Regions from separate parts of the Homo sapiens genome. Here region 1 is linked to region 2. The links come from fine-mapping of genetic effects on gene expression. A gene starts in region 2. The other region holds a variant in brackets. All regions are shown on one strand. Distances are from middle to middle. Region 1 overlaps NSMAF (neutral sphingomyelinase activation associated factor). Region 2 holds the start of NSMAF (neutral sphingomyelinase activation associated factor).

The links.
Region 1: its variant is fine-mapped to the expression of NSMAF in whole blood (INTERVAL, PIP 0.95).

What each region holds. Positions count from the first base shown.
Region 1 is chr8:58,580,673-58,597,278 of GRCh38, reverse strand. NSMAF (neutral sphingomyelinase activation associated factor) reads left to right here. Exons shown (of 31, transcript NM_003580.4): 22 at 1,620-1,719; 23 at 2,989-3,047; 24 at 6,345-6,412; 25 at 7,205-7,272; 26 at 7,704-7,827; 27 at 9,578-9,661; 28 at 10,671-10,821; 29 at 11,279-11,381; 30 at 11,518-11,627; 31 at 13,079-13,771. The coding sequence ends at 13,173. It overlaps SDCBP (syndecan binding protein), which reads right to left. Exons shown (of 9, transcript NM_005625.4): 9 at 14,421-15,593. The coding sequence ends at 15,539. It also overlaps the pseudogene RPS26P7. Among named protein-coding and RNA genes, the nearest start is that of SDCBP, 36 kb to the right of the region's middle. RefSeq lists enhancers at 1,054-1,103, 1,453-2,652. The variant A/G (reference allele first, on the strand shown) is at 6,913.
Region 2 is chr8:58,651,538-58,668,143 of GRCh38, reverse strand. NSMAF (neutral sphingomyelinase activation associated factor) reads left to right here and starts at 8,291. Exons shown (of 31, transcript NM_003580.4): 1 at 8,291-8,571. The coding sequence starts at 8,513. It overlaps LOC124902083 (small nucleolar RNA U13), which reads left to right and starts at 5,800; the gene lies at 5,800-5,903. RefSeq lists silencers at 8,214-8,553, 8,564-9,013 and enhancers at 8,725-9,287, 9,464-9,753, 9,288-9,851, 16,214-16,606.

The DNA.
Region 1 (16,606 bases), 71 kb after region 2:
TTGTGTTCTCCTGCCTTATTGCAGTTCTCCTGAAAACAGATACCTGTTTTTGCTGATGTTGTTTGTTTTCAGCTATAGACTGTAAGGGAAATCAAATCGCTTTTATTTTCTGGCAATTGAATATGAGTGAAAGTTGGCCATATATGTTTTGATGTGGTTCTCTTTCTCTTCTGTGGTTTTGAAGCTGGTGTTTGATCCTTAGCTATTTGCCTTTTCATTCTTACAGTCCTAGCTGTCCAGTCTGCCTTCCCAGTCACTGTCAGCCCTGCTGTCTTCCAGAAGGGACTTTCTCTGGCCCTAATTATGCTCTTCTATACCCACATACAGATCTTTTTTTTTTTTTTTTTTGAGACGGAGTCTTGCTTTGTCCCCCACGCTGGAGTGCAGTGGCGCCATCTCGGCTCACTGCAAGCTCCGCCTCCCGGGTTCACGCCGCCGTTCTCCTGCCTCAGCCTCCTGAGTAGCTGGGACTACAGGCGCCCGCCACCACGCCCGGCTAATTTTTGTATTTTTAGTAGAGACAGGGTTTCACTGTGTTAGCCAGGATGGTCTCGATCTCCTGACCTCGTGATCCACCCTCCTCGGCCTCCCAAAGTGCTGGGATTACAGGCCTGAGCCACCGCGCTCGGCCCCACATACATCTTGAATTCAAAGTGCTCTCTCTTCTTCATTGGATTTCACTTATTTAACATTTGACAAACATTTACAGGGTATCTGTTCTGCGCTGGGCATGTGCTAGGCACTAAATTGAACTTGACCCAGTTCTCACATCTAATATTTGGAAAGGTAGGAAAGAACACTCACCTTTCTCCAGTTACCCAGGTTTTAGATTTTACCTAAGACAACTTCAAACCTACAGGCTTCCAGAAGGAGGTTGACACTCTGTGGAGCTTTGGGAGCAAAATCACTTTTTATCTCCTATCCTCCTGTCTGTTCCAAGGACATCCAGACATTTTAGGCATACATAGATGAGCATTCTCTCAAGCATGGAGAAATAGCTTCCTGGAGTTACATGACCCAGGGGTAGCTTCTTTAAGAGAGAATACTCTAGAGGGTTAAATCATGAAGATCACAGGATTATCTTGTGATGCTGTTTCAAACTGCACTCTGCTTAGTCACCAGGCTGTAACCACTGTCATGTGATTGTTTTAAGATGGTAATTGTTTCAGCCCTTCTTAAAGCAGAAGTAAAAGGATTACTCCTGCCAGAAGCCCTTGCGGTAATTGATTTCATCTCTGCTTTCCCCACCCCACACCAGAACAAAATTGTTGCATTCTTAGGCAACTGTCAGGTTTTTGAAACAATGTTGACAAGGAAATGATGACTCAGTCTTGTATTTCCCCAAATTCATAAGTTAGAGGCCGAGTGAAAACTTTGCAAACATTGTTAAAGTATAAAAAGATTCTAGTATTATTCAAAGATACTTTTTATCTTTCTCTATACAATTTTTTCCTTGACTAACGTGGAACCATCTAACAGGTACATTTCAAAGCAGTTATATTGTGACAGGGTGTTTCATTTCTTAGTTGTTTGATTTTAATAGAAAATATTGTTAATCTGATGCTGTTGTCTGTTGGTAACTTAGTTGACTTAGCAAAAATTTAATGTCGTCTCTCCAGGTGAAGAGTCTTTTGAAGACCTGACCGAAGAAAGCAAAACACTGGCCTGGAATAACATCACCAAACTGCAGTTACACGAGCACTATAAAATCCACAAAGAGTAAGAATATCTCTGCTTCTTCTCAGCAGCTGATAGTCCTGGTAAAAGTTAGGGTCTTGGCATGGGATTAAACTGTTTTAAGCTGAGTCAGAGGGAAAATTCCCTTTCAATGTTGTCTTTATTTTTAAAAATCTCCCCAAAATGTCTATAGTGATCTCCACCTGAGGTTGATGTAGTAGGGAAAGTTTGGCACGAAATGATTTGTGGTGGCTACCGTGCTGTCATTTCTGCAGTCTGTCACTTCACAGTACAAGATGTGGTCGGCAGAGAGCAGCCAGTTTTGTGCCTCTCAAATTGGAGTACACAGCTCCTTGAATCTTTGATGGGAGAAGTGTGATGTATACCCCACGAGTGTTGGATTTACACATAATGTAGGTGAAAAGGCACCTTTTAAAAAAATTAGCTCTCCCAGAGAACATTGCAAAGTTCACATGAATTTTAAAAATAATTATGCTTCTAAGAAATTGGGCTTGCTGTTGGACCCAGAGATGATATGTGTGTTCTCTGCCCTCTCTCATTAAGACCTTCATGTTCTCTGGTAGAAAGGCTCGAGAAGCACTGACCTAGCCTGTTCATCCTGCTACAGAGAGGAAACCCAGGTCCAGAGACTAGGCCCCACCTAGCTCCATGACGACAGACAGCCCCTCCGGCATACAGGTCATGGGTGGAGCTGGGCATACTGCTGTGCATTAGATGGATGGCTTCACATCACAGTCCAGCCTCCCGAAGAGAAACAAGGAGTTTTGGCTGATTCATGATGACAATGGCTGTCTTTTCTCAACTTCTCTAAATGGCACATAGGAAGGGACCTTGTAATCCAAGGTAGTGAAGACTGAATGATCCTTTAAGAGGACAGGCTGGAACCAATTTTCTCATCATTGAATAGTCACTGAGTAAATTAGCTTCAGTAATCAGCAAGTGAAGTGACTGTGAAGAAGAGTTTGTCCTTTTGGTGATGGTCAAACGAGGGGGAATAGAAGGAGAAGAGTTTTCCAATTGCCAGAAATTGTCAGGAATATGTAAAGCATTGCATGTGGAACACAGGGAAGCAAAGAGTGGGGATGTTTTCTAGCCACAGGCGTTGCCAGAACGTTAGAAGGTGCCAAGCAGTGATTTGGTAATGGCAGGTTTATGCTGGGACAGATCCGGCAGACATGCTGTGAAGAAAAAAATTAAGGAAACTTGGTAAAATTAAATCAAGGATATGAAACAAAGAGGGTATCCTAACACATGATGAGTAGTAATTTGTGAAACTTTGTTTTTGAGCAGAGCAGTTACTGGAATCACGGTCTCTCGCAATGGATCTTCAGTATTCACAACATCCCAAGGTCAGTGTTCCTCCCCGAAAGGCGGCTTAACCAAAATCCTAGAATGTCTGAGTTCTTTATTATTTAGCTCGTGGTCAAGGACTGCACTTGCATGTGCTGCCTCCACATAAAGTAAACTTAGAGCAGTTCCTTTGTGGTACATTACATAGAGTTTCATGGTAATTTGCCAAAAATAATAATGAAACATCTTTCTGTTGCTGATGAGGTTTCCCAGAGTTGAGGATAGAGGACAGAAACAGCCTCCTTTCCACACCCTTGCTGGGTCAGGCACTTCCTGCCTGCCCATGAGAGGTGCGCTGTCCACTTGTTGGGGTTGGCTGTGAGTAGCAAGTGCTGTATCAGAAATTGATGTGTGCCTGTCAGCACGTGGAAATGCAGATTTGCTGTTACGGTTTGCAGTTTTGTCATTCAGTGTATATTTCTTCGGGATATTTGATTTAGCTCAAAATCAAATTCATGTATTATTTAATATGCTTATACATTATCAAAATTATAAAAACCCTTGCAGTGTGTCATTGATATGACTTATAGCTGTAAAGCAGAAAGCATCCCTTACTATATACACCATTGTTCTCTCCCTGGTAGTCTGCATTATATATTATTCATTAAAGTATGTCTTGGCCTTGTCATGTTGAGAGCACTGTGTTGGCACTCTGGAAGATGCAGAGATGGAAGGGTAGTATCTTTGCTTCCTGCTTCCATGAGAAAACAACTTGTTCTGACAAAGTTTGTAACTTTATAAAGTAAGGCTACTCGTTATTTAGTCTTTATCATAGGAGATTATATTTTTCATTCATTAAGACAAAGTGCTATCCAACTAAACACTTTCAGGAAAATCAGAATTACTACTCTCAGATTCTGTTATCATTGTTTATGATCTGTAGCATTTCATTCTGTTCTTTTTCAAATACTGTCTTGGATTGTATATAAAAAAATTTTCCACAAAGCATAGAAGTGATTCTACACAGTAGATCAAAAGGAAGTTCATGTGCAGTTCCCAAACTGGGCCATGCCAGGGTCACCGAGGCACTTCTCTGATAGAAGGAAGCAATCTGTATTTTGCCAGGATTTCTACCTGTGGAGTTTGCCAAAAATTATAGCCTCAGACAAAGTGCTTTATCTTTAAGCAAAACCTGTGTTCTTAGCAGGATTTGTCTGGGATGGCTTGTTAAATCGTTCAGCACAGTTGTACTTGTATGACCTTGTTAACCATGAATTTGATGAGCGTTGTGGCTTCAAACCACTGAGGCTTATTAAGCATTATGTCACTCCTCTGTGGATTTTCACAATAAAGGAGAGAGAGGTTTTTTTTTTGTTGTTGTTGTTTTTGTTTTTGTTTTTTTTTGAGACAGAGTCTTGCTCCGTCGCCCAGGCTGGAGGGCAATGGCACGATCTTGGCTCACTGCAACCTCCGCCTCCTGGGTTCAAGCGATTCTCCCGCCTCAGCCTCCTGAGTAGCTGGGTTCACAGGCACCCACCATCGTGCCTGGCTAATTTTTGTATATTTGTAGAGATGGGGTTTTACCATGTTGGCCAGGTTGGTCTTGAACTCCTGACCTCAGGTGTTCCACCTGCCTCGGCCTCCCAACGTGCTGGGATTACAGGCATGGGCCACCACGCCCGGCCGAGAGAGTTTAAAAATAAAGTCAAAAGCTTTTGTTTTTTTCTGTTTGTTTTTCTCATATTTAGATTTTCATAATTCATATTACTGATTTATATGTATCCTGATGGTCACCCCAAAATTACATATCTTCTTCTAGTATACAGTATGTTTAGGTATGTGGGCAGGCACAGAACCCACCACTTATGAGCTTAGCTTTTACTGCAGTCTTTAACATGATGACCTCTAGTACAGGGGATCCTTGATTTCAAGAAAAACGTCTTTTTTTTTCTTTTATTATTTTCTTTTTCCATTTTTTTGGTTCCCTGACTGAGAAATGAACCCAGGCTGCTGCAGTGAGAGCACCAAATCCTAACCACTAGACATCAAGGAGAGAAAAACATCTTTATAGAACCGACTGGTTTCTGGTTTTTTTTGTAGGATGTCTCAAATTAATCATCTTAAATAGATTTTGTGGTGAATGCTCAGAATTGCCTAAGAGAATCAAAAGCAAGGTTGGGAAGACTATCAGATCTAATTATACTGCTCAGGGGAAAGTTCAAGTGATACTGTGTTCATTCTTCTGTTTTCGTTTTCAAATTAATGCTGAAGAATATCTTATTGAGGCTCATGTTTATAAATTGTCAGGAATTCTGTGTGTTGGGGTTGCAAAAATTGGGTTGAATTATTAAGTTATACTGTGCAGAAGAAATTATTTAAAGATCATTCCGACATCACGTTGTGTAAGTTAGAAAATAGATTGTTACATATCTCAAATATAGGATGTCTGAAGCACATTAGAGCCTTGTAATTTGTGAGTCTTGGGTTTTAAGAGGTTGTTTTGAGGCCGGGCACAGTTACTCACACCTGTAATCCCAGTATTTTGGGAGGCCGAAGGGGGCGGATCACTTGAAGCCAGGAGTTCGAGACCAACCTGGCCAACATTGTGAAACCCAGTCTCTACTAAAAATACAAAACTTAGCCAGCCGTGGTGTGCACGTCAAAAAATCCCAGCTATTCGGGAGGCTGAGGCACAAGAATTGCTTGAATCTAGGAGATGGAAGTTGCAGTGAGCCAAGATCACACCAATGCACTCCAGCCTGGGCAACAGAGTGATACTGTGTCAAAAAAAAAAAAAAAAAAAAAAAAAGGAAGGTTTCTGTTACACAAGAAAATTAAATGCTTGGATTTTTAATTTCTACTTTATTATTATTTAGAAAGTCAGTGGTTCCCTTCTATAACTAATGTTCAGTGCAAGGGTATCACACTTAACTATATATAATTGGGCAGTTTTTTTAAAGAAAACATATTGCCAAGATCTTTTTGTCTTATTTAGTATTAAAATTACTGTTTCATTGTTACTATTAAAATTGCTATTTTCCTCCCTGTAACTTTCTGCATATACCAGCTACCACATTTCTGCCTGCAGTCATGCTGAAATGTCAACAGTATACCTACCATGTCTGTGCTGGATTTTTAAATTGATGTTTTTGTCATGGGGTTACAGGTCATAGAATCTTAATGTTGGATGAGGCCTTAGGTCATCTAGCTCTGTTTACATTCGGTTTTCCATAAGATTATACTTTGGAGTATAAAGTGTACTGTTGGCCACCAGGAACAAGAAGAGCAGCTGTTCTTTGACGTCTGTAATGGTTAGGAAATCTTTCTTATATATCTACTTCTCATTATTAAATTAGATTCCACCTTGAAGATGTTTTCTAAAGAATCAAAAATGCTACAAAGAAGTATATCATTTTCAAATATGGTGAGTTCATTTTAATAGTATTATGATAGAAATCCGTGTAGTAGTTTGTTTTATACACACCCATACAATAATACTTTATTTCTCCCAAAACAATTGAGTTTATTCCTGTGTAGTAAATCTACCAGATACCTTAGTTAGATTACTTCTAATTTCAATGTAAAATTTTTTTCAGGTTACCACTTTCTCTTACTGTTGTGATTTCATTTTTAGCTTAAAATACTTGGAGAGCTACCCAGTAGAATTCTACTTAAATAAACCTCTCCCTTTTTTAGCTGTCAGACTAAATGTTATGTGCTACTTAATTTATGCATCTCTGAGTTGGTAGGATATCTAATATGACAAAACCAATTCTTCTGAAAGAACACATTTTATTTTTAATGTAAATCATGCAAAAGATCTGGAAATTCTCTGAAGAATTTTGGAAGGTTTTCTTACCCACACAAGTCTGTAGTCCAGAGGGGGTATTTTCTTTCTTGAGGATCATCCCCAGTCTGCCCCCA[A/G]CTGGAGATTTACTCCAGAGTGTGAGTGGGCTTCTTCCAGCCCAGGGCAGGACCCTGGAGAGTCATCAGGCTAGGTCGTAAATACCCTTGACATACATGGACATTCCTTCCTGCATTTGGGAAAAAACCCTACAGCTGGAATTAGCCAGTTGAGAAAATCTGCGTAAATAGGAGGAGAGCCACATAAAGACGATTTGAGCATTAATTTTTCGGAAATGTATAAGATAGCTTTACTGTGTTAGAGACTTACTAATTATTATAGATTGTTAACGTCAAATCATTTGTATTTCAGGCTTTATCGTCTTGTTTACTTTTACCAGGAGATGCCACTGTCATAACTTCTTCATGGGATAATAATGTGTATGTATCTGTGCACCCTGCTCTGTGATTCGACGTGCAGAATAGCTGCCTCTGTGGACATGAGGTGTGAAAAGCCAGAAGCTTTCCCTGCCAGGACACAGCACTGTTTTCTAAAGGGAACAGATATTAGAGATGAGGACAGTATGGTTGGATTTGAATATGATTGCTTAGATTGAATAATTTCTCCAATTGGAGTCTGTTTTTCTCTAAGTTTTAAATTGAGGAGAAAACAGATGAGCCAGACATGGAAATTTCTAATTTTAAATTCAAATTTTGAATATTTTGATTTAGTAATTTGAGAACAAGCAATTTGTAATTCTAGTGAGCCTTAGTAAGTATAGAATGAAACAACATAATGTTTCTTTAATATATGTTTAGGAGCCTTAAAATTAAGCCAGACTACTGTTTTAATGCTTCTCATTATCTTTTAGCTATTTTTATTCCATAGCATTTGGAAGACGCCAGGACACGTTAATGGGACATGATGATGCTGTTAGTAAGATCTGTTGGCATGACAACAGGCTATATTCTGCATCGTGGGACTCTACAGTGAAGGTTCATATATAATTTAAAAAGTTTTTTTAACTTGGTGTGCTATATGGCATATGTATAATTTTTAGCTTAAAATGTACATACAGATATTATAAGCCACTCAACTACCTATTGCTAATGTGTTCAGTCACTCCACTCTTTTTCACAAAGCGTGTGAGTGTAAGGATATTGAATGTTATTGCCTGTGTTTAAAAAATACATATAAAATATATCTATAATATATATTTATATATTATTTATATTTAAAATATAATATCTGTTATATATTACATATATTTATATATTTTTATTTATATAATACATATTATATATTTTTTAAACACAGGCAATAACATTCAATATCCTTACGTATCACATACTTTGTGATATGTACATTCTTTTTATTTTTTGTTTAAAAAAAACACTTCCTTATTTACTTATTTTTTTTAGAGACAGTGTCTTGCTCTGTTACCTAGGCTGGGGCTAGAGTGCAGTAGTGGGAATTATAGCCACTTCTTAATATAATAAGTTTATCATGATTTCTGTACTGTGTATTCCATTGTGGGATGAATGGTCTAGCATTCATTCAATAGCAGAGTTAGAAAGAAATGTATAGTAGCAGCCCCTTTCATCTGCCATGATCAGAAATATTAGTTGATTATAGTTAATTAGAAAATGTCAAGTTAGCTCTCTCCGGTCCGTGCCTCCAAGATGACAAAGAAAAGAAGGAACAATGGTCGTGCCAAAAAGGGCCGCGGCCACGTGCAGCCTATTCGCTGCACTAACTGTGCCCGATGCATGCCCAAGGACAAGGCCATTAAGAAATTCGTCATTCGAAACATAGTGGAGGCCGCAGCAGTCAGGGACATTTCTGAAGCGAGCATCTTTGATGCCTATTTGCTTCCCAAGCTGTATGTGAAGCTACATTACTGTGTGAGTTGTGCAATTCACAGCAAAGTAGTCAGGAATCGATCTCGTGAAGCCTGCAAGGACCGAACACCCCCACCCCAATTTAGACCTGCGGGTGCTGCCCCACGTCCCCCACCAAAGCCCATGTAAGGAGCTGAGTTCTTAAAGACTGAAGACAGGCTATTCTCTGGAGAAAAATTAAATGGAAACTGTACTTAAAAAAAAAAAAAAAGAAAATGTCAAGTTAAAGTGAGGAATCATTAAAAGACACATTTTATTTAAACTGAAAATATCTGAATGCTCATTCATTCACCATTCTTTCGATGTAGGAATATGTTCAGTCTTTTCTTTGAAATCTTACACAAACCACGCCAGCTTTCATTATTTTCAGTTTCTATTTTGTGTTGGTGTAAAAGAAAGCAAGAACCTAAAATTGTTAGAATTCCTCCAGGAGTTTTTCAGAATTTTTCTTCCATTCTTTTAGATAAGTTTATTTGCCTGTACCTATTTTTAGTTATTTTGGGGGTAACATCCTTTTTGGTCTTCCCAAAACATTAATAGTGTTCTCAAGACACTGTAATACTTCTACACTCATATTTCCTTAGTTCACATACTAAAGTCACACGATTACAGCAGCAAGTGCAGGTGATAGAAACACACAGGTACAAGCAAGGGACAGTAAGCAAGCACATGCTGGTGGGAGAAAGTGCAGGCATAGGGAGGAGGAGCTGGAGCACTGTGCAGCTTAACTTTATTGGCAAGTCTGTTAAATGGAAATTGAGCATAGGAGTTTTTCTTGAATGCACTAGAAAATGACTTTTTGTTAAATGTTTGAAAATACCTTCTGCAATATGTTCCATCCTAGGTGTGGTCTGGTGTTCCTGCAGAGATGCCAGGCACCAAAAGACACCACTTTGACTTGCTGGCCGAGCTGGAACATGATGTCAGTGTGAGTACCAGCAACAAACTGTACAGAAAACTGACCTTAAAAGTCTAGGGGTTCGGCTGGAAGAAGGTTTTTGGTTTTGTTCATGTTGTTTTGCTTTATTTGGTTAATGGAAGATTATAGGCTAAATCTCAGTTCTTTTCTTTGTGTTGACTCTTTAGGTTTCCAAGTCTACTTTGTTTTGTTTTATTTTTTCTCCAAGTTACTTCTTTGCACATTTCCCTGAGAATTAGCTACCATCCAACTAGAATTCCAAAATAGTAGTTTCTGAGCAGGACGTTGAATATTTGGTACCCTCAAACTCTTTGGGGCAACAAGATAGGGCCTATGATCCTTCATGTTTTCTGATCCAGAAGCTGGAAGGGAACCATCTGTCCAGGAGACACCCATCCAACAGTGGGGGACAGTGACCAGCTGTCTGGGATGGTCAAGTACATGCAGCCTGTTGGCTCAGTTCTCACTTGCTCTGTTTTCTCTGGGTCACGCTGCTGCATCTTATGCTGTAGTTGACAGTACTGCCTTTTCTCTAAGGTTGTGAACTGATGCCTAATTTCCATGGTCTTCAGATTAGCTGAGTTTGAGAAATATTTAGTATGTAATTCATGATGATGTGCAAGTATAGCCTCGAGAGATTCCGCCACTCCCACAAATCCCTCAAATAATCATGGACTGGCTGTGCTTCAGGCACTTTGGCGGCTCACTATAATTTATTATTCATAGAGTTATCTTTCTGAGACTGTCAGTTTTAAGCTATTTTAAAACAGCATTACCTTTACTTTAGCAATACTTCATTTCTTCTTGTATTCCCTAGCTTATAAAGAATTTAATTTCATTTTTAAAATAAGTTATTCCGTAGGATGATGTTGAAATACATCTGCATTAGCAACACCGGCATACTGCACAATAGAGTTTAATTTATATCATGATGACTACATATTTGAACCAGACTAGAGAAACATAGCTAATGACCATAAATCTAATGGAATATGTATCAATGTGTTTTCTTCCTTAGGTAGATACAATCAGTTTAAATGCTGCAAGCACACTGTTAGTTTCCGGCACCAAAGAAGGCACAGTGAATATTTGGGACCTCACAACGGCCACCTTAATGCACCAGATTCCATGCCATTCAGGGATTGTATGTGACACTGCTTTTAGCCCAGGTAGATATTATCCTTTTTAAAACAGATAATACTAGGTAAATTGGAATTTTGAAATAAACAATATTGTTAATTTTGAAATAAACAATAAAACTTACAAAGAAAAACACTATTTGCTGATAAAAGAGGTTTTGCCAATGGCTAACACTGCTTTATGCCAGGGTACAGTATACTTGTGGCATTTGTATCAGGTAGAAAAGCCGGACTGGGTATTTTTAATTCCTCATTAGAGAAATTAATTTAAGATAAAAATGAACTCATAATCAAAGGGTCATCTCATCCTTACATCTTGGAAAGGGCTAGAACCATTTCAAGGAGAGGATAGTCATTGCTTAAGTACAAGGATTTTGAAGAAAACGAATGTGGAGATTAGGCCACTGGACTCAGAAATAAAATCCAGAATAATGTAAACCACATTCTGAAGCTGTCACTCATATCTGAGTCTCACCTTGTGTTGCAGATAGTCGCCATGTCCTCAGCACAGGAACAGATGGCTGTCTTAATGTCATTGATGTGCAGACAGGAATGCTCATCTCCTCCATGACATCAGATGAGCCCCAGAGGTATAGTTTGTGAGTTACTGGGGGCGAAGACATTTACAGACATGTTCATGATCACTTCATTTGGGCTTACATTGGCCAGTTCAACATATCCTTCCTTCATGATGAAGAAAGGACTATTTCTAAATCATTCTTGCAGGTGCTTTGTCTGGGATGGAAATTCCGTTTTATCTGGCAGTCAGTCTGGTGAACTGCTCGTTTGGGACCTCCTTGGAGCAAAAATCAGTGAGAGAATACAGGGCCACACAGGTAAGCAGCTACTGCAGTTGCCTTGATCTTTGTTCTCAAGATAATGAACTCAAGCCTGCCTTTTCCATCAGGGAACATACTCTTTTTGGGCAAAAAACACCCATGGTTTTTCCATGTCGTAAACATGTCCCTGGAGCCTCTTGATTGGCCAGGTGATCTGCATCTCGTAGGTTACTCAGGATTTAGATTTATGTTAACAGCCATTGGACTCCAAAAAGGAAGTCTTTAACTTTCATATGGAGAATTAAAAACCATCGTAAAGCTATTATTTTTCTTAAAGGTAATAGCATGATCTTAAATTTTTAGAATAGTAAAAAAAGAGAAAAAAAAAAAACCCAGAAACAATACAATAGGAACTACAATGAAAATTAAGGCTTCTTTCTACCGCTGACTCCTACCTCCCAGTCCTCCTTACAGTACTTTACCAGTGTGTGTCCTGTGAATAAGAGAGGGTATATGTGTATTAAATTGTTTATGTGAAGTATAATAAACTGTTCTGCCCATGTTTTTCATTTGGTAATATTTCTTGGAGATTCACTAGATTGTTTGCTTACAAATTCTTGCTTGCTTTCTGATCATTTGGAGGACTTGGTTTTTAATTCTTCTAGTGTCTCTTGTTATCCCTTGAGTTCCCACTGTAAGCAGTAACTTCCTACCTTCATTCTCTTCCCTGTGTCACTCGACTTCATATGGTTCTTCTTAAATGTATACCTTAAAAAGTCTGGGCCAGGCTCAGTGGCTCAGGCCTGTAATGCCAGCACTTTGGGAAGCCAGAGTGGGAGGTCAAGAGTTTGAGACCAGCCTTGGCAACATAGCGAAACCTCATCTCTTACTAAAAACCAGAAATATTAGAAAAGTGTGGTGACACACGCCTGTGGTCCCAGCTACTTAAGAGGCTAAGATGGGAGGCTAGCTTGAGCCCAGGAGACAGAGGCTACAGTGAGCTTCATCATGCCACTGTACTCCAGCCTGGGTAAGAGCAAGAGCGAGACTATTTCAAAAAAAATGAAATTCTTTGTGACTTTTGTTCTCAACTTAGTAACTTTAATGTGATTTGACCCCTTCCAGTGGAAAAGGAAATAAACCAATAACCTTACACCAATAACCCCACCTTTTCCTTCACATCTGTCTCCCAACTTTTGTCATGTTATACCTGTATTGTACTTACTTCGCCAAGGTATTTATTTGCATTGTTCTATATCCATAATTCCCAGTTGTTTTAGCTTTAGATTTACACTTAAATGGTTTAGTATTCCTCACAAGATCTTTGTACCAAGCAATTATTTTTAATTTATTCAAGGGTTTTATTATAGGAAGCAGACAAGAAAAAATAGAACTTACTTCACTTGTTTAGTAAATGAATAGCAAAGCAAGAGTAAGCATCAGAGTAAAGTTTATCTTTGGGTGCCTCCTGGTCAACTTCCTAACTAACCAAAATGTCTTTCTCTCAGGTGCTGTGACATGTATATGGATGAATGAACAGTGTAGCAGTATCATCACAGGAGGGGAAGACAGACAAATTATATTCTGGAAATTGCAGTATTAAGTGCCTTTTCCTCTCCTGAATATTAAATTGAACTCTATTTAATGCATTTTTAAACCAAACTTTTAAACGGACTGGTGAATGTGCAATGTTAGTAATTAGAAGTTTTACCACATGGAAAATTTGTGGTTTTAAACTTTCTAAATCATGGTGACTTCATTGAAAGCCATTAGTTGCTATTCTCTTAGGGCAGATAAAATGCGGCTGTGTTAGGAAAAACATGTTACACTGTAAGGCAGATGATCGTCCCCGTATGATGATTGTCAGAAGACAGGACTAAGTAGCAGAGAATAGCTAAGAGATAAATTGGGCTGGGGAAACTTGTCAGAAAGCACTGAACAATTAAGAAATTTTCCAAGAAAATGTGCAGTATTCTCTGCTACTTCTGAATCTGTTTTGTCTTCCTAATCTATCACAATTGCCACCCATCGGGTTTTGGGTGTGTGTTTTCATAGCGTGGTTACTTTCTATAATGCTGTACCCAGATTCTAAGAACCTGGAGAAGGATTAGCAGTTCTTAGTAAGTTTACTGTGTATAGGAACGGTTTGTATTTCATTACAGCTATTCATCTTTTCTACATTAAAAATATTTTTCTCTAAAGAAAGCTGTTTTCACTTTATTTAAGTAACTTAAAAGACTAGTGTTTTTAAGACCACAAGTCTAGAATCATCTTCTAGAAAACCATATTTAGTGATATGAATGTAATTCCATTATTTTGAAATTATCTTCAGACTCAGGTAGATAATCAAATATTTTTTTCTCTTCTAAATTTCAAACAAGGTAAGCTGTATAGCAGTAGCAGATTTCCTTTTATATTCAACCTCTGAACCATGGTAAGTGTGTGACTTATTATTTTTTCTATACTCTTTAAAAACATTGTTGTATCTTGCAGGTAGTATGACATAGGAGAAAAAACTTGAGTCAGACCACACTAATAGAATTTCCAAAGTCAGTTTCAGTGTTATTAAATATTACCTGGTCTCAGGTATTGCTAGGGACAATCAGTAGCCTCAATGAGTTCCTGCTGCATGGCAGGTGTGAACCAGCTCTTCTTTTGGCCCTGGTAATCTGGGGTTCCCAGCTGGAAGCAATTTTCCTGACACTCAGTCTCAGCACTGAGAGCTGTTCTTAGGGCCCCTGAATGTCAGCTTGTTCTGGGAGATGATGTCTCCCACAGCTGAAAGTGAATTTCACCTGCCTGTCTTCTAGATCATGCATAAGTTTGGTGAAAGCAAATGATGCAGTAATAGACAGACTAAAATGTAACTTTATTTATACATATTTAATTAGAATAGACATAAACCAAAAAGAAGAAAAAAATCAGGATAAAGTGTCAACTATCATTTTGTTTGCAAGGAGGAGTCAGGAAAAGGAACAAGTTATCAGAAAAATATTCTAAGACCATCCCAAAGTAGCTAGGTTACATAATCTTAAGAGTCAAATGCCAAAATTAAGTATTATACCACTTAATCCACAAATGAACAAAAGGGGAGTCAAAAGTTTATCCTGTTTAGTGTAATAACTTTTACATCACATATAGTGATTCACTTCTTAAAAGTGGCACTGGCAACTTTTAGAAGAAAGAAGTTTCCATTATGTGTTGACTAAAAAATCTCAAAAACAACTAAGCAGCTATGCTATAGCTCAGTAAGTACCATTAAACTGTTCTGGGCTAGTGTACATTTCAGGTTAATAGAGAACTACATTTTGGGTTTTTAGAAAGGCAGCAATAATTATATTTTGGCTTTTAGTCTAGATGCTTAACATAGTTAAGGCGACAGTTCAAGCATATTAAGTGAAGGTAGTTAAAATTTAAGAATCATCACAATCTCTTGAAACCTACATACACTGTTTAATGCTTACATGGAATGAAACCAGTGTTCTTAATTGGCATTTTACACACACACACACAGAATTTAAAAAAAAAATCAAAGGCAATCATTCTAAATGTACTATGATAGCATGTTAAAGATGCAAGTATGCTATAGAACTAAAGTAATATGAACAGCACTACTCATTACCTAGGAGAAAGGTGACTGGTTTTCACACAAAGCTAAGCCTGTAACAGTCATCCTAATCACAATGGCTTATAAAAGCATCAGGTTTCCAGTAGAGAAACTATTCTAGGAAAGTCAGTAAATCTCTTGAAAGTTTCACATCTGTAAAACCAGGATAAGGCTACAACTATTTTGAAATCTGAACAAGGTATCAGATGAAAGAGTAAGATTCCCAGCCATAATGTAAGATAGAAAGGTCCTCATGCAGCATATGCTCGCTGGCTCCGGGAAGGCTTCACGTGCATAATACAGAAGTTGCCAAAGAAGGAAACTGGAGACGTTCAGCTACATTTCCATGGTGCCGTGAATTTTAAACCTCAGGAATGGTGTGGTCCATTAGGCTTTTCATAATGCTTGGTGCCATCCTACAAGAGAGGTACTTTTATTATATACCGAGATTCTGGTTTTTGTTTTTCAAAATGCTACATTAATCCAAGAAAATTCCCAATTCCAATTTAGCACCTGTTAGCATCAAATATGAATGGAGAGAAGGGAAAGATCTTTTAAATGAGTCCAGAAGCATCTCTGGTAATCTAGTTGTTGACAGACACTCAGTGGGAAAGACTATCTGTATTTGGCTAGAGAAGTTAGGATACAAATGAATTCCTGTGCATTAAACATGGTGATTTTTAAAAAACAGAAAGAAAATGACAAGGCTGTGATGAGTTGGGGTAGAGGGATCCATCAGTGATTTAAGAAAAGAGAACCCTAGAAAAATTAGTCATGACAATAACTCCTTTTTACCCCCTCCAAGGGTAGCTAGGTGCATTCTATCCAGAAGCCAACACAAAAATTTCATTACAATGGTTATGTTTATGAATCTTTTAAATCTCATTTTCACATGCATAATAGAGCTTCTGAAAGGATTCCAAGCTGGCTTGACAAAAACAGCTATGGTAGATGCTAGGATATGAAAAGCTCTATAGAAGGAACCTTGTTGCCTCTTTTCAGTTCTGATCACTTGGCTTTCTAATCCTCAGTTCCTGAGCACAGATAGCACCAACACACCACACTTGTCTATCTGCCTCTTGAGATTCTGGAGAGAAGGGAAACTTACTCTTAGCATTCCACCAGCAAGAATTCTCCATTACGAACCACCACAACTATATTTATACTGAGCAGAGGGGTGGTAGGCAGTGCAACTGCAGTCAATTGCACTGCAAATTGAAAGCTGAAAGCATGCCCACTTCTCCTTGCATACCTTTTTTCTACCAGGCATTATAAAAACTGAGGAAAGTATATGTGAATTTTATTCCGTACTTGGGAAGTTGTAAGAGCTCATCCTTACCAACCCTCTGATTTAAATAACTTACTTCAAATTTCTAGATAAAACACCAGTATCCATTCCTTGGGTAAAAGAACCAAAGGGCTGAGAATT
Region 2 (16,606 bases):
AGTCTCAGAGAATGTTTCATTTCCCTCATCAGTCTTGGATTTGGGGAAGTCATGTGAACTAATAGGGACAATCAAGGGAGTCTCTAGATACTTGCTAGCCAGCCTGGGCTGGATGAGGTCTCTCACCCTGAGGGAGAAAGTAGGCAGCTGGCCAAATACCAGAAGCTACCTATTACCAGCCATAGGGGAAGGGAACCAGACTTAGAAGGCAGCTAACTATGCGGAAGGCCTAACAGAAAGATGATGAAAAACTGTGTCTCTGATGAACTTATTGAGCCACTGGATTAACGAACATTGATGTATACGATACTTCGGATTTCCAGGTACCTGAGCTACAAATTCCTGTGATGGCTAATTTTGTGTGTCAACTTGACTGGTCCATGGGGTCAGATGTTTGGTTAAACATTATTGTGGGTATGTCTGTGGGGGAGGTTCCTTTTGAGTTGGTGGACTGAGTAAGGCATACAGCCCTCCCAATGTAGAGAGGCCTCAAACAATCTATTGGAGGCCTGAATAGGACACAAAAGTGGAGTAAGAGAGAATAATCTCTCTTTGCCTGACTGTCTTTGAGCTGGGGCATTGTTCTTCTGCCTCTGGGCTTGGGATGAGACTGGAGATTATACAACGGGCTCTCCTGGTTTTCAGGTTCTTGGGCTCAGACTTGGATATATACATTCCAGACTCCTATATATAAACTCCTATTAGTTCTGTTTCTCTGGAGAACCCAGACTCATACAATTCCCTTTGTTATTTAAGCAAAATGTGCAAGAGGAAAGAGCTGATCACAGTTCTATCTAAATTTTCCTGCTGTCCATGTAAGTTTTGAGCTTCTTTCAGGCTTGTAACGCAGTGGTCAAACTTTAAAATGTAAAACATATCATGTCATTTTCCTGCTCTTACCCCTCCAGTGGCCTGTGTCACACATTAATAAAAATAATAAGAAAAAATCCAGTGCTCACCTTTGTCCTGTGGTCTGGGCCCTGCTGCCTCTATCTCTCACCGTTAGTGTGCTCTAGACACTAAAGTGCTGGCTCAGGCTGTTGACCTTGCTATTCCTTCTACCTGGAATGCCTTTTCTCAGGATCTGCACATTCAAGTTTCTTAATTCATTTAGTTGTCAGCTGAAATATCAGTGATCAGAGGAGACTTCTCTGACCCCCTATCTAAAGAAGTTCTCACCCTCTTCATGCTCTATTCCTTACTGTGGTTCAGTTTTTCTTGTGATACTTATCCTTACCTAAATTTACATTATTCACTTTTTAAATAGTCACTCTTACCAGAAGGTAAGTTCCAAAAGGGCAAGGACTTCATATCATTTATGGCTGAGTCTCTAGTACCTAGAACATTTCCTGGCATACAATAAATAGTCAATACCTTTTAATGAAGACGATGTAAAGAAAAAAATAATAGTCTCAGGTGTCATCTTCCTTAAGAATAAGTATCAATATGTATTCCTGGCTAGTTTTCATTTTAGTAATGGGGTACACGTTGCAGATTGACTGACCCGGGAGCCATTCCCAACCTGCTTCTGCCTGGCGGCTTGGCAATATTGAGGCTGTAAGAGTGAAGCACTTGTTTGCCCAGTCTCCACTGCTGCTATGCAAGAATTCTGGCCTGGAAGATTGGTGTGCATTTCTGGGAGTGCTTTTGGTTTACTAATAAGAGAAACACACAAGGCTGGCCCTGCCCTTCCTCCTTATTTCTCCTCAGAAGCTAAGTACAATCATGGTGATGGAACGTGATCTTGTGATCAAAAGGCTACAAGTCTAAGAGAAAAGTCAGGCTTCTATTAACATCTGTGCCATCCATGCCAATGATGAGGAAATGTACTCCAACTATTGACTGAGTTTTCTTTTATTTACAGTATAACAAATCAAAATAGATACACATGCTGACAAAAGAAAGCACAATATTCAATTCAACAAACATTTACTGGGCAACTGCTAAGTGCAAGACACTGTATTTAGTGGCAATGTGGATATAAAGACCAACAAGTCACTGTTTCTGTTCCCAAGGAGATTCTAACCCAAAGAGGGAGATAGGCCTTATAAGGTAAAATGGGGTCACTGTTCACATCCCTATCCAACCATAGTCTCAAAGGCACCTACCCACTAATGCCCAGCTGAATGCGTGACATACACTGATGTGAAATAAATATGTACTGAGTAAGTGAATGTGAGATAAATTCCACTTGGGTGCATTAAAAAGACTTCAAATAAGTTTTGAATGGGAATTTAAAGGACAGGTAGGATTTTCACAGGAAGAAATGGTGGTAGAAAGGTAGGAAGGCATTTTAGACAGAGAGGACAGGAAGCTTAAAAGCATGAAGGCAGTCATAACATGTGTAAGGGAATGGCGATTGCCCATTTTCTTCAGGTAAGAAAAGAATGTGCTACTACAGGGTGAGTATCCCTTATCTGAAATGCTTGGGACCAGAAATATTCTGGGTTTCAGAATTTTGTTTTGGATGTTGAAATACTTGCAGAATACATACTGGTTGAACATCTCTAATCCAAAAATCTGAAATCCAAAATGCTCCAACGAGCATTTCTATTGAGCATCATGTCAGCACCCAAAAAGTTTTGGATTTTGGAGTATTTTGGATTTGGAATTTTTTGATTTGGGAAGCTCAAACTGTATCAGAAATTTTTTTCTCAACAGCCCTCTGTCATGGCACCAGTTGAAATTACCTGGAGATTGAGTACAGAGAATCAACATTAAGAAATTAGTCAGGAGAGAAACCAACTAAGGAGACTGACAAGAAGAAAGAATCAAGGTAGGAGAAAAGCAAAGAAACTGTGGGCTCTCAGAAGTAATGGGAGCAAAGCCCTCCAGTGAGGAGATACGTTAAATGCTATGTTATACTACATTTGATTCTGCTGGTAGCTCAGAAAGATGAAGCTAGAAAAGTGATCAATGAATGTAGTGATTTGACAAGAACCATTACAGTGGAGTGGTGGAAATAGAAGTCCAATTATTATTACTTTTGGAGGCAGGGTCTTGCTGTGTTACCCAAGGTGGAATGCAGTGGTGTAGTTAGAGTTCACTGCAGCCTCAAACTCCTGGACTCAACCTATCCTCTCACCTCAGCCTTCCAAGTAGCTGGGACTACAGGCACGCACCACCATGCCCGGCTAATTTTTTAAAATTTTTTTGTAGAGATGAAGTCTCACTATGTTGCCCAGGCTGGTCTTGAACTCCTGCCTCAAGCCATCCTCCTGCCTCAAGACATCTTCCTGCCTTAGCCTCCCAAAATGCTGGGATTATGGGTGTGAGCCACCACATCTAGCCTGGACGTCCAATTGGAATGGACTCCAGAAAACACAAGGTGAGGCCGGGCACGGTGGCTCATGTCTGTAATCCCAGCACTTTGGGAGGCCGAGGTGGGCAGATCACGAGGTCAGGAGATCGAGACCATCCTGGCTAACACAGTGAAACCCTGTCTCTACTAAAAATACAAAAGATGAGCTGGGCGTGGTGGCGGGCGCCTGTAGTCCCAGCTACTCAGGAGGCTGAGGCAGGAGAATGGTGTGAACCCGGGAGGCAGAGGTTGCAGTGAGCCGAGATTGCGCCACTGCACTCCAGCCTGGGCGACACAGCGAGACTCCAACTTAAAAAAAAACAAAAAACAAAAAAAAAACACAAGGTGAGAAAATGGAGCAGCATGTATAGGCAGATGTTTCAAGAAGTTCCTCTGTGAATGGGGAGTTGGAGGGAGATGTAGGATAAAGGGAAAGTTTTTTGAAAACTACATTTATATTCAAATAGAAATGATCCAACAGTGAGAGAGAAATAGAGAAAGCAAGAGAGAAAAAGAAAGAAGAAAGGGTCATCGCAAAGGCTAAATTGTTGGGAAGAAAGGAGAAGTTGGCCTTTGATAGGAGCAAATATACCTTAAAATAGCAGAAATGAAGACAAAGCATAAGAGGGCAGATGCTAGTAGGGTGGATGCTTTGGTGAGGGGAGGATGAGGGAGCTCCAGTCTCAGTTCTCTCAATTCTCCACGAACACAAACTGTTAAAAAGGAAGCGTGTCTCTTCTGAGTTATTGTTCAAGACAATCCCTTCGATTGTGTTTCTTCCCTTCTTTCTGCCAAAGATAGACAAAATCAGACACTAGTTCAAATGGTAAGGACAGATTTTAATCAGTAATACATTATTGCAATAGGGGTCAGGAGTCAGCACGAATTCAACTTTGATTTGTGCAAAGGTGGACGGACATTTTTGAAGTGAAAATGAGGGAGTAGGGAAGGGGAAATCGGGCTGAATAGAGTAAGGGAATTAAAAATCTAGAAAGGAATGGTCTGTGTAAATGTGATTAGGTCAGCTGTGTCCGCTAGCTGGTCATTATTGAAGTTGAGATTCTATTTTCTCACAGAGCCTGTAAGACAAGGTCCTATACTTCCTAATGATTACATTTCAAAGGAATAGATTTCAGGTCCTTGAGAAAGACACTGTGAGTTGTAGGAGACACATATACATCTTAAAGGGACAGAGGAGTGATTCACAATTGTAAGCCCTTTTTGGTAAATGTTCTAAGAAAGGGTGGTCAGAGTACACCCTTTACTATGTCAGATGTTGGCTTTACTATATCAGATGGGGCCTGTGTCAGATGTTGGCTGGAATGAATAGTAAATTCTTTTTTTTTTTTTTTTTTGAGATGGAGTCTTCCTCTGTCACCCAGGCTGGAGTACAATGGTGCTATCTCGGCTCACTGCAACCTCCACCTCCTGGGTTCAAGCGATTCTCCTGCCTCAGCCTCCCAAGTAGCTGGGATTACAGGTGCCCGCCACCACGCCCGGCCACTTTTTTGTATTTTTAGTACAGATGGTGTTTCACCACGTTGGCCAGGCTGGTCTCAAACTTCTGACCCCAGGTGATCCGCCCACCTTGGCCTCCCAAAGTGCAGGGATTACAGGCGTGAACCACCCGTGCCGGGCATAAGTAGTAAATTCTTTTAATTGCTTTGAGCTTTCTCAGACAGGTACATTAAGTGGGGCTGGGTTATGCTAGGGATGTGGCCTCAAGCTGTTAGAAATTATGTTTGTTTGTTTAAGTCTTTTAATGTGGGGGATGGGGACTGGACTAAATTATTCGTGCTGGGAGTCTGGTTTTTATAGGCCAAGGTTGAGGCCTAGTTGAGAAGTGGGCTCAGAGGAATTTGGCTAGAGTTGGGTTAAGGAGATTCTTTAACAGTCTCTGCCTATTCGATCACATCTAATCTTCCTCTAATGTTTAACTTCAAGAAGATAACTTACATTCTGGGTTTTTGTTGTTGTTTTTTCCTTATTCCAGCCAAATTAATCTCTCCTCTGAACTCACAGAACCTTTTGTAGTACTTCTCATAAAGAAATTTATCATGTACCTTTTGACAAATTTTATTATCTTATTTCATTGTGTACCTGCTCATGTATTTATTTCTTGGCTACCAGACAGCATCACAATTTCCTCCAGGAATGTTGACCTAATGTGTTACAGGTTCTGCACTGCACTTGGACACGTGGAAGGGACTCAGTCACAGTCAAAGGGTACCCAGGCACCTTCATTCATTCCCAAAATTTTTAATGGGTGTGCTCAGTATACATAGCATTTTGTCCAGTGCTGCTAGGGGTCAAATTCAAAAGACCCAGCCACAACTTTTATTCTTGGTTTCCCTACCTTCTCTTCACAGTCCTGCGACTTACTAGAGAAAGCTGAGATGTACATTTACCTTGAAGCTTCTAAAAATGTAACCCTGCAAAACCTGATCCTTAAGACAGTATGAGATATGTTTCCACAAGCATACAATTTAGAGGTTTGGATCCTTTTGTAGTTCATAAGTGTGATGATTGGGTGTTCATGTGCAGCTGTGTGATGTGCCGCCCTTGAACCTTGTTACGAGTTTGGCACATTACCTGTTTAACGTGAAAAAGAAACTTAGAGGCGTGTTATTCAAGAATCCCTCAAAGGTAAACAATCAGAGGCTCATTCTCAGCATATATTAAGAAGTTATAACCACACTGAGATACCACTCATACCACTAGAATAGCTCTAAACAAAAGTCAGGTAATAATAAATACTGGTAAAGATGTAGAGAAACTGGAACCCTTCTACGCTGCTGGTGGGCATGTTAAATCGTACAGCCACTTTGGAAAACAGTCTGGCAGTCTCTCAAACATTTAGACATGGAGTTACCATATGACCCAGTTCCATGGTGGGCAGGCCTATACAAATCTATCTCAAAGTCCTGGGATGCCGGGAGGTGGAAGAAAGAGGCTGACAAATAAAGTTCCTTGGGAAGAAACATTTAATAGCGACTAAGGAACAGAAGCCATGTCCATATCTGTGTCTTGGGCAGCAAGATGAGATGGTGGATTGCTGTGCTATTAACCCCCAGACTCAATGTTTTTTTTTTTTTTTCTTTTGAGATAAGGTCTCTCTCTCTCTGTATTGCCTAGGTTGGGGTGCAGTGGTACGATCATGGCTCACAGAAGCCTCAAACTCCTGGACTCAAGTGATCCTCCTGCCTCAGCCTCTCCAGTAGCTGGGACTATAGGTGTGTGCCACTGCACCCAGGTAATTTTTATTTTTTATTTTTTGTAGAGACAGGGTCTTGCTTTGTTGCCCAGGCTGGTCTCGAACTCCTGGCTTCAAGCAATCCTCCTGCCTCAGCCTCTCCAGTAGCTGGGACTATAGGTGTGTGCCACTGTACCCAGGTAATTTTTATTTTTTATTTTTTGTAGAGACAGGGTCTTGCTTTGTTGCCCAGGCTGGTCTCGAACTCCTGGCTTCAAGGAATCCTCCAGCTTCAACTTCCAAAAGCATTGGGATTACCGGCATGAGCCATCACTCCAGCCCCTTAGGGCTTATATACCATAGGGGAGGGGTGGTTCAGAAGGGATGTGTAGGACAATTGAAGTATAATAACATCAAGTTGTTTGAATTAAGGACAGAACATACTGGGTAGATACCTGCTCTTACACAAGGAACAATAGATAAAGTAGAAATCTTAGAGGCCTTCCCAGAACTGGGGTCAATCAGAAGTCAACACGGAGGATTAGCTTCCAAGATGGAGCTGCTTTCGCCTCCACATCCAGCAATTCCACTCTTAGATTCCAATTCCACTCAACAGAAATGGAAACATAGGTCCATAAAAAAACTGTACATGACTGTGTACAGCAGCCTTATTCACAATAGCCAAAATGTGGAAACAACTGAAATGTCCATCAACTGATGAATGGATAAACAAAATGCAACAGAATATGCTCCAGCAATCTAAAGGAACGAAGTACTGTACAGATACATGCTACAACATAGATGAACCTTGAAAGCATTACGCTAAATGAAAGAAGCCAGACACAAAAGGCCACATATTGTATGGCTCCATTTATATGAAATATCCAGAATAGGCAAACCCATAGAGACAGGAAATTGATTATTGTTTGCTAGGGCTGGGGTTTGGAGGGTAGAGTTAGGAAGAGTGACAGCTAGAGGGTATGGGTTTCTTTTACATGTGATGAAAATGTTCTCAAATTGTGGTGATTGTTGAACATATCTGGAAATATACTAAAAATCGCTGAATGGTATACTTTAAATGGTTGACTTGTTTGGTATGTGAGTTATATCCCAATAAAGCTGTTATATAAAAAAAAATCATGCGAGCAATTATCTCAACAATCAAGAGACTGTGTTAAAGATTCTTTGCTTGGCCAAACTTCAGTTAGGCTTCTGAATCTTCTCCCAGGTCCTTGTGTGCACTTCCTTGTAAATGCAGTGTTAGGAAGTAACACTGCCACGGCAGTTTAGCAAGAATCCCCCACCCTCCATATGTGATCAAAATTCTTTACTCCTACCCTTAGTATCTGACCCCCTGGCCTGCCTTCACTGGGACTCCTGTTAGGTTGGTTCAGCCAGAATTTCCCCCAGAATTGATGTTTCCTCTTAGCAGTTTTCCGAACACCTGCTCCTTGCTCCTTGGCTATAAATCTCCACTTATTCCTGGTGTATTTGGAATAGTTACGACTGAGTTGCCTTCACCCCTTTAACTTCCGTCTTTTTTTTTTTTTCACAATGGAGGACACAAAACGTTGTTATTTCAAGTCTTTGTGGCCAACAGATTGGTGGTTTATGGGCCAGCATCCCTTTTTATGCGTAAAATATTTAAAACGCAGCCTGCAATGGTTGGTAAAGTGGTGAAACGTTTAGTGTGTGAGGTCGGATCCTGGTCTGGCCGCTGGCCCTGGCGATCCTCTGAGGCGGCCTGAGTTTGGGGCGCCTCGTGTCACCGCGCGCCCCTCCTCCGGGCCTGAGTCACGGTGCCGCCGGAGTCCCCACGCGAGGATGCTGCGGTGAGCGCGGCCGGGACGCCGCGTCGGGCTCTCGGCCGCCCAGCGGCGCCGCAGGGGAAGCCAGGCCGGCAGCCGCGCGCTCCCCAGCCGGCCACCAATCCCGCCCTCCCCGGCTCCTCCGGACCTCCTCGGCAGGCGGCGGCGGGGCCTGCCTGTGCGCTCTGCGCCCGCCCGCGCCTACCCTCCATGGCGTTTATCCGGAAGAAGCAGCAGGAGCAGCAGCTGCAGCTCTACTCCAAGGAGAGGTGCGCGCCCAGCTGAAGAAGGGCCCAGCCGGGGGCCTAGTCGGGGCCGGTCGTGGGGACGCCGGCCGGAGATCTGAGGGACGGGAGGCGGCGTGGGGGCCGGGCACGGAGGCAGGGGCCGGACGCGTGTCCAGGGCCTGGGCTGGGGGCTGTGGCGGAAACCTGAGGTCGGGGTGAGAGGCCGGGGGCCTGGTCTGGGCCGGAGCCTGCCGGGGACAGGAACTGGATGACGGGCCAGGCCAGATTCCACCGCGGAGCCGAGGCATGCCGAGCTATCCGGCAGTGCAGGTCCCGGCGGCCGCGGGCAGCTCACCCGGAAGGCCGCGCGGGGTCCGGGCGTGGATCCCGGCACGCGAGCCCGGGCGTTCGCAGGGGAGGGTGAGTACGCTGCCCGGCGGGCACCCCCTTTCTAATCCTTCCCCTTAATCGGGTCCAGGCACTCGGCGCCGGCGCCGCAGAGTTGGTCGCCGGGCGGCACCGAGCAGGCCGGCGACCACCCACTCGCATTGCCGCGCCTTTTTCCTGCCGACTCCTTTAGACACAGGACTAGCTCCATGCCCTGGAAGGCTGGGAGGGGGGCCGCCGGAAAGGCCTGATTCTGAGGAAAGCCAAGGTCCTGCCTCCCAAACACTTGCTCCCCGCGCAGTGGACCTTGTGTTGGAAAGCTTTGCAGTCGAAATCGCGGTGCGGCAGCGGAGCACTCATTCTCACCAGCATCCCAGTAAGGATTTGGGATCCCTTGAGCTAAAATGGTCTCACAGCAGTTCCCTTTCAGATATGCTGGACCTGTCCCCAAGGGAAGTCTCATAAGAAAGCTCACTTCGGCTCTATGTATAGTTCCCAGGGCATTTTTGGTGACAGAAACAACTTGCTCGGTCTGCAGCTCAGATGCCAAAAGGAAAGGGGGGCTGAATCATTTTACAGACACACTGTTTTGATTGTGAGAGCCACAGATCTTCCAGTGCTGCTAGCCTGTCACGTTGTCTCATCAGTGAATACCAGCAAAGCAGGTTACACGTGGGAATACAAGTGCAGACTTCAAGATTTGTCTACACTTGTTTTATAAGGGTTGACTCGACCCCTTTGATCCAGACATTCATCTTTCTCTAATCTGTAATGTTGGTCTAACCAGTGTGTCCACAGTACGAAATGTCATTTTTCTACTGTAGAGAAGAAGATACGATACACAGAAAACGTATCTCAGATATGGCTTTCAAAAATGTTTTTGGTGATGTGATTAGGTTTTAGTCACAGAAAGGGTTGTTTATTAAATAACTGAGCCCTAACTATGTAACTCACACTTGGGGATGCCCTTCTGACTGAATTTGTAATGCATTTTTCTTGTGGAAAGAGCTTGAGTGGAGATTCTTTGTTTAGTACCAACAATATTAAGACTTGTTGGTGCTCTGTATTGAGTGGGTGAACATTCATATTTAAATTGTGAGAACTTTGACACACTTGAATTGGCATCATGTTGTATGATATGAGTCATTCGTGCCAATACTCATATTGGCCTTTTTGATATACAGGGAAACGTTTTTTCCTTGGTTCTGGCTGTTATTTCGATGAAGTAATTTGTGTTCAATTTGGCTAGCTCATACAGCTCCGTGGTGTCACACAAACCTTGAAACCTGTACTTGCATTTCCATGTATATGCTGCTTTGTTAGAATTCATTGATTAGACAACAACGTGATAGGCTGGCAGTGTTCAGAGAGAACTCTAGCTCTTGGCAACCAAAACATTTATCTATCCAGTCAGGAGGCATCAACTGTTCCTGAGCATCAGTCATCTGAAAAAGTTGGCGCCATGTGTTTTATATTTATTTGAATTATAACTTGCTGAGTGCCCAAATTGTTTAGTGCTCTGCCCCATGGCTTTGCAACCTGGGCTGATGGGCATACTCCATTCAATGCATAGAATATGCATTTGAATGACAGGAATCTGTCTCACATCAGGTATGCACTGGAATCAAGGAGTCTCTTTTATAAATCTTAGAATTCATTCTGAAACAGAGGAATATTTTAAGGCAACTTTATTAAGCCCCAAATTTACCATTTCTGCCCAGATTTTTCCGGGTTTATCCCCTTGCATCAATAAACACAAATTAGCAAATGGATTGGATTCGTCATTGGCTCCAGCATACCCAGGAAAATTGTTACTTTTCTTGGAAAACTTGAAGAGGGGTTGTTTCAGAGGTTACCCATGAGAGGCCTCAACCTGTTCATTGTAAGTTCACTGGCGGCTCTCATGCTAATTAAGGGATTTTAGATTTCCAGAGCTACCAAATATTGACCCCAGAAAAGAAACTTGAAATGAGCATTTATTTCTCTTATTGTTAGGTTGATGTACTTTGATATTCCTGCAAAAGCAGAAGCATAGAGACTGACTAGGAGATTCTTGCATTGGTGGTTTAAACCAAGGTGGTGGCAGAATAAATGGAGGAAAGTGGATGGATTCTAGATGTTTTTAGGACGTGTGATTGACAGGTCTTGGTGTGGTGTATTGTCTGTGAGAGGTGATAAAGGAAGAATTCCAGCTAGGATTATCTGATAAAATACAGCACACCCAGTTAAGTTCGAATTTCAGATAAACAATGAATAATTTTTTAGTATAAGTAATTGCGATAGTATATGCAATATTTGGTATGTACTTATACTAAAATTTTTTTAGTATAAGTAAATGCAATAGTATATGCAATATTTGGTATATACTTATACTAATTTTTTTTATTTTTATTTTTTTGAGACAGAGTCTCGCTCTGTTGCCCAGGCTGGAGTGCAGTGGCGTGATCTTGGCTCACTGCAAGCTCCGCCTCCTGGGTTCACGCCATTCTCCTGCCTCAGCCTCCCAAGTAGCTGGGACTACAGGCGCCTGTCACCACGCCCGGCTAATTTTTTGTATTTTTAGTAGAGACAGGGTTTCACCGTGTTAGCCAGGATGGTCTCGATCTCCTGACCTCGTGATCCACCCACCCGCCTTGGCCTCCCAAAGTGCTGGGATTACAGGCGTGAGCCACCGTGCCCGGCCCTTATACTAAAATTTTTAAAAGTATATTATTTATCTGAAATTCAAATGTAACTGGGCATATGATATTTTTATTTGCTAAACATGGAAATTCTACTCTCAGACTTCTGGTTTGAATAACTATAAAGTGGTGCCATTTATTGTTGATGTTTATAAATAAATGTTTTGGTAATTTTAAGGATTAGAAAACAGACACTTGGCCATTCGAAATAAGTATACTTATATCCTGGTTAAGATTTAGGTGGCAGGCCAGACACAGGGCTCACGCCTGTAATCCCCAAATTTTGGGAGGCCAAGGCAGGCAGATCACGAGGTGAGGAGTTCGAGACCAGCCTGGCCAATCTCTAATAAAAATACAAAAATTAACCAGGCATGGTGGCGTGCGCCTGTGGTCCCAGCTACTTGGGAGACTGAGGCAGGAGAATTGCTTGAACCTGGGAGGCGGAGGTTGTAGTGAGCCGAGATGGTGCCATTGCACTCCAGCCTGGGCGACAGAGCGAGACTCCATCTCAAACAAACAAACAAAAAAAAGATTTAGATAGCAGGAACCATATTGATTTTATTGTTTTTTAAAAATGTCCTGTGCAGGTGTTGGTGAGGGTAAATTGAAAACATTTTTTATTTTTTATTGTTTTTTTTTATTGAGACGGAGTCTCACTCTCGCCCAGGCTGGAGTGCAGTGGCACGATCTCAGCCCACTGCAAGTTCCGCCTCCCGGGTTCACGCCATTCTCCTGCCTCAGCCTCCCGAGTAGCTGGGACTACAGGCGGCCACCACAGCGCCCGGCTAATTTTTTGTATTTTTAGTAGAGACGGAGTTTCACCGTGTTAGCCAGGATGGTCTCGATCTCCTGTCCTCGTGATCCGCCCGCCTCGGCCTCCCAAAGTGCTGGGATTACAGGCGTTAAAGGCAATTCACATGTCTTCCTTGGATTTGTCAGGGATGGCAGGTGTATACATTGGGTTAGTAGATGAGGATATTATACAGACTTTCTATTTAAGACATTTCTATTTTAATATGAAATATATTAAAAGGTGGGAAGATCACTCGAGCCCAGGAGTCCAAGGTTACAGTGAGCTATGGTCATACCACTGCACCCCAGCCTGGGTGACACAGTGAGACCCTATCGCAAAGAAAAAAAAAAAAAAGACATTTCTATTTTATGATTTAGAAGTAGACTAAAGTAGGCAAATTGTTAAATTTTTTTGCTTTACTATCCACCGTGGAGTGTTGGGATGACAGCTATTTCTTGGGTAATGTAGAAGTTTAGATACTTGCCTAGGTGCCATGGCTTACACTTGTAATCCCAGCCCTTTGGGAGGCCAAGGCACAAAGATCGTTTGAACTCAGGAGTTTGAGACCAGCCTGGGCAACATAGGGAGACCTTTTCTCTATTTAAAAAATAAATAGGCCAGGTGTGGTGCCTCATGCCTGTAGTCCCAGAACTTTGGGAGGCCAAGGTGGGTGGATCACTTGAGGTCAGGAGTTCGAGACCAGCCTGGTCAACATGGTGAAACCCTGTCTCTACTAAAAATAAAAAAAAAAACTAGCCGGGTGTGGTGGCACACACCTGTAATCCCAGCTACTCGGGAGACTGAGACAAGAGAATCGCTTGAACTTGGGAGGCAGAGGTTGCAGTGAGCTGAGATTGTGCCATTGCACTCCAGCCTGGTCAACAGAGTGAGACTTTGTTTCAAAAATAAATAAATACATAATAGAAAAGAAATTTAGATAGTTGAGATATGTTTCCTTCTGAGGAAGAGTCATAGTTTTATCTCTGTAATGTCATAGAATAAATTCTTAATTGTGCTTTGTAAGTTCCACAGATTTCCACTCAAGGATGGAAATTAGTGATCTTGAATTCTGTATTTGGTGCCTGCATATTACATTAATAGTTTAACAGGCACTTTGAGATTTCAACTTTGTTTCAGACATTCCATGAGTGTATAATATTCTTGATTATGCTAGTATTAACTTTCTTTCTTTTTTTCTTTTTTGAGAAGGAGTTTCCCTTTTGTTGCCCAGGCTGGAGTGCAATGGCATGATCTTGGCTCACCGCAAACTCCGCCTCCTGGGTTCAAGCGATTCTCCTGCCTCAGCCTCCCAAGTAGCTGAGATTACAGGCATGCGCCACCATGCCTGGCTGATTTTGTGTTTTTAGTAGAGATGGGGTTTCTCCATGTTGGTCAGGCTGGTCTCGAACTCCCGATCTCAGGTGAGCCACCACGCCCGGCCCAACTTTCTTTTACTCAATATGTTTGTTTAATCAATTGTGTCTATATTTATTTTATAAAAAGCACTTGGCAAGAGGGCAAAGTGATTGTGGTACTTCGGTTTAATCTTTCATTTCTAAGGCTTATCATCCCAGTCTTTTCAGATCTGTTTGTGGGATATACCAGGTGTTGAAACTGGAGATCAGTGGAGATAAAGTCAGGACTTAATTCGTCAGGAATGCCGATAGGTCCCAAGAAATCTATCCGACTGTGACTTAAAGAAATAGGGTTTTTTTTTCTCACATGAAAAACAGCGGGAGAGGAAATAAATGTTGCAAATTTCTTGGTTAATTTAGACTCTATATTGACTTTACCCAAAATGTATTACTAGCCTACCCACTTACTTTCCTTTTATCTCAAATTAACCTCTTCCAAAGTGTCTACCATTGAGAAGTCACAGGAATCTATCCATAAATGGATTTTGAGTATGTAAGCTATATAATATTCATTAAAAATTTTTTTAGTGTGATATAAAATAGGAATGGTCATTTAAGGAATTCAGTGCTATTTTTCTTCTAAATACCATTGTCATTTCATCTTTTAACCATCAGATATTTAGAATTGTGTCTTAAAATGTCCAACTCATAGATTTTGAAAATTATCTTTTTGTTATTTTTTTTAACTTGTATTCAGTAAGTAACTTAGAATTGTTATCTTCTTGGTGAGTTGAATTTTTTATCAATATATAATGACCTCTTTACTTCTAGTAATTTTTTTTCTATTTTGTCTGATATTAATATAGCTATATCAGTTTTCTTCTGGTTATTTGCTTTGTATGGGATTTTCCATTGTTTTACTTTTCACTATTCTGTGTCCTAAGGCTTTAGGCCTGTTTCTTATAAATAGCTTATACTTGGACTTTTTTTAAATGATTCATTTTGATAATTTTTATCTTAATGAATTAGTTTAGTCTGTTTACATTTATTATTACAAATATATCTGAATTCACTTTTATTTTTTAGTTTTGTTCTTTTATTTTGCCTTCCTTCCCTTCTTCCTTTGGATTAAATAAGGCCCCCTTGCTCCCTTTCATTTTTCCCCAAAGAGTATGGAAGTTATATATTTTATTTGTTTTTCTAATGCTTATCCTTAAAACATAAGCATATTAAATTTAAGATCTGAAGCTAATCATTATCTTTACTCTCCTCTCTACCAGTGTAAGAACCTTGGAACACTTAACTGCTGTGCCCCCATCCTCAGTTATAGTCTGTTATTGTCCGGTATTTTTTATCTCTATTTTAAACCTACAGATTGTACATTACTAATTGCCTGGTTAATGCTTCTGTAGTTTTACATGCATATTTACCATTGTTTTTGTTCAATATTCCTTCTTACATGTCATATCCTCGTTACGGAATTATTTTCTCTTTCCTGAAGAATATCCTTTAGAAGTTCCTCTGATCAGGGTTGGATGATGATAAACCACCTCTGTTTTTGTCTGTCTGAACATATCCTTATTTTCCTTTTGCTTTGAAAATCCGTTTTGCTAGATGTTTAATTCTCAGCATTTTGAAGATTATCCAAACAAAGGCAAAGGGCCAGGGAATATGCATCAGACTTGCTGGAGTGCTCTGGGGTGTTGGGGGGGTACCTCACAGAGAAAGGTCAGTGATAGTTGTGCCTTGTCCCCCTGGGGTAACGTTCAGCTACCTGGCTGGGCCAACTTCAGACTTCAGGAGAAACCAGCACTCCAGGGAGTGACCAGGGGCCAGAGTACAGTAGGACCATACTGTGATGGAACCTTGGCTCACTCATCCCAGCTCAGCATGTGTGGCTGCAGGATATCCTTACCTCCTTGCTGGCTTGATTGGGGCTAAGTCTGTATAATGTGGCAGAGTTTGTTCTTGATTGGGGAAACACCAGCCTTTTTCCTGGCATGGTCAGGGGACCAGGGTTCAAGCCTTGTGGTTGATGAGGTTTGATTGCCTTAAACACAATCATAGCAGTTTTCCCTGAAACTTTGCAGGAGGCCACCTTCTCTTCTGGGAGACCAGCCTGCAACAAACCAATATTGTTAAGTCTAATTGTTCTTTGTAGGTAATCTCTCTTTTCTCTGACTGCTTTTAAGATCTCCTCTCTGTAGTTTTTTGCTGTCTAGATATAGATTTTTTTTTCTTCATCTATCCTGCTTGAGCTTCCTAAAGCTAAAAGTTTTGGAAAATTTGGAGCCAAGCTGAACTAAGGCTAGAACAAATGTTCTCTGATCCAAGTCCAACCTCTTTTCCACTGTACCATACTGCTTCTATTTTAAATACTAGGTTGTGGGCTACTGGCCAGTGCTTATTTTTATGGTATCCTTGAAGTTTAGACTGATTCAGGAATGAATGAAGCCTGTTTTATGTAGATATCAGAATCTTGTTAGTCAAAGTGTTGTCCACAGGCCAGCAGCGCATGTGTGCCTGGAGCTTGTTAGAAATGCACATTCTCAGGCCTCACCCTGAAGCTGCTGCCTTGGAATGTGCATTTTAACAAGATCCCCAGTTGATTGTGTGCACACTAACCTTTGTGAAGCGCTGCGCTAGATAACAGTAATTCAGCATTCATCTTGATTTTTTATTTGTTTGTTCCTTCCAACTGAACTTCCTTCTTTAACTTCTTGATAGTACATATAAAAAGGCTGAGGGAAGCCTCCTGCCCTGCAGTATGACACTTGATGAGGAAACTGGAGGACTTTGAGAGCATAGATGACATTTTTACCATTTCTTCTCATAAATTGCTGGGACTTGAAAATAGAATT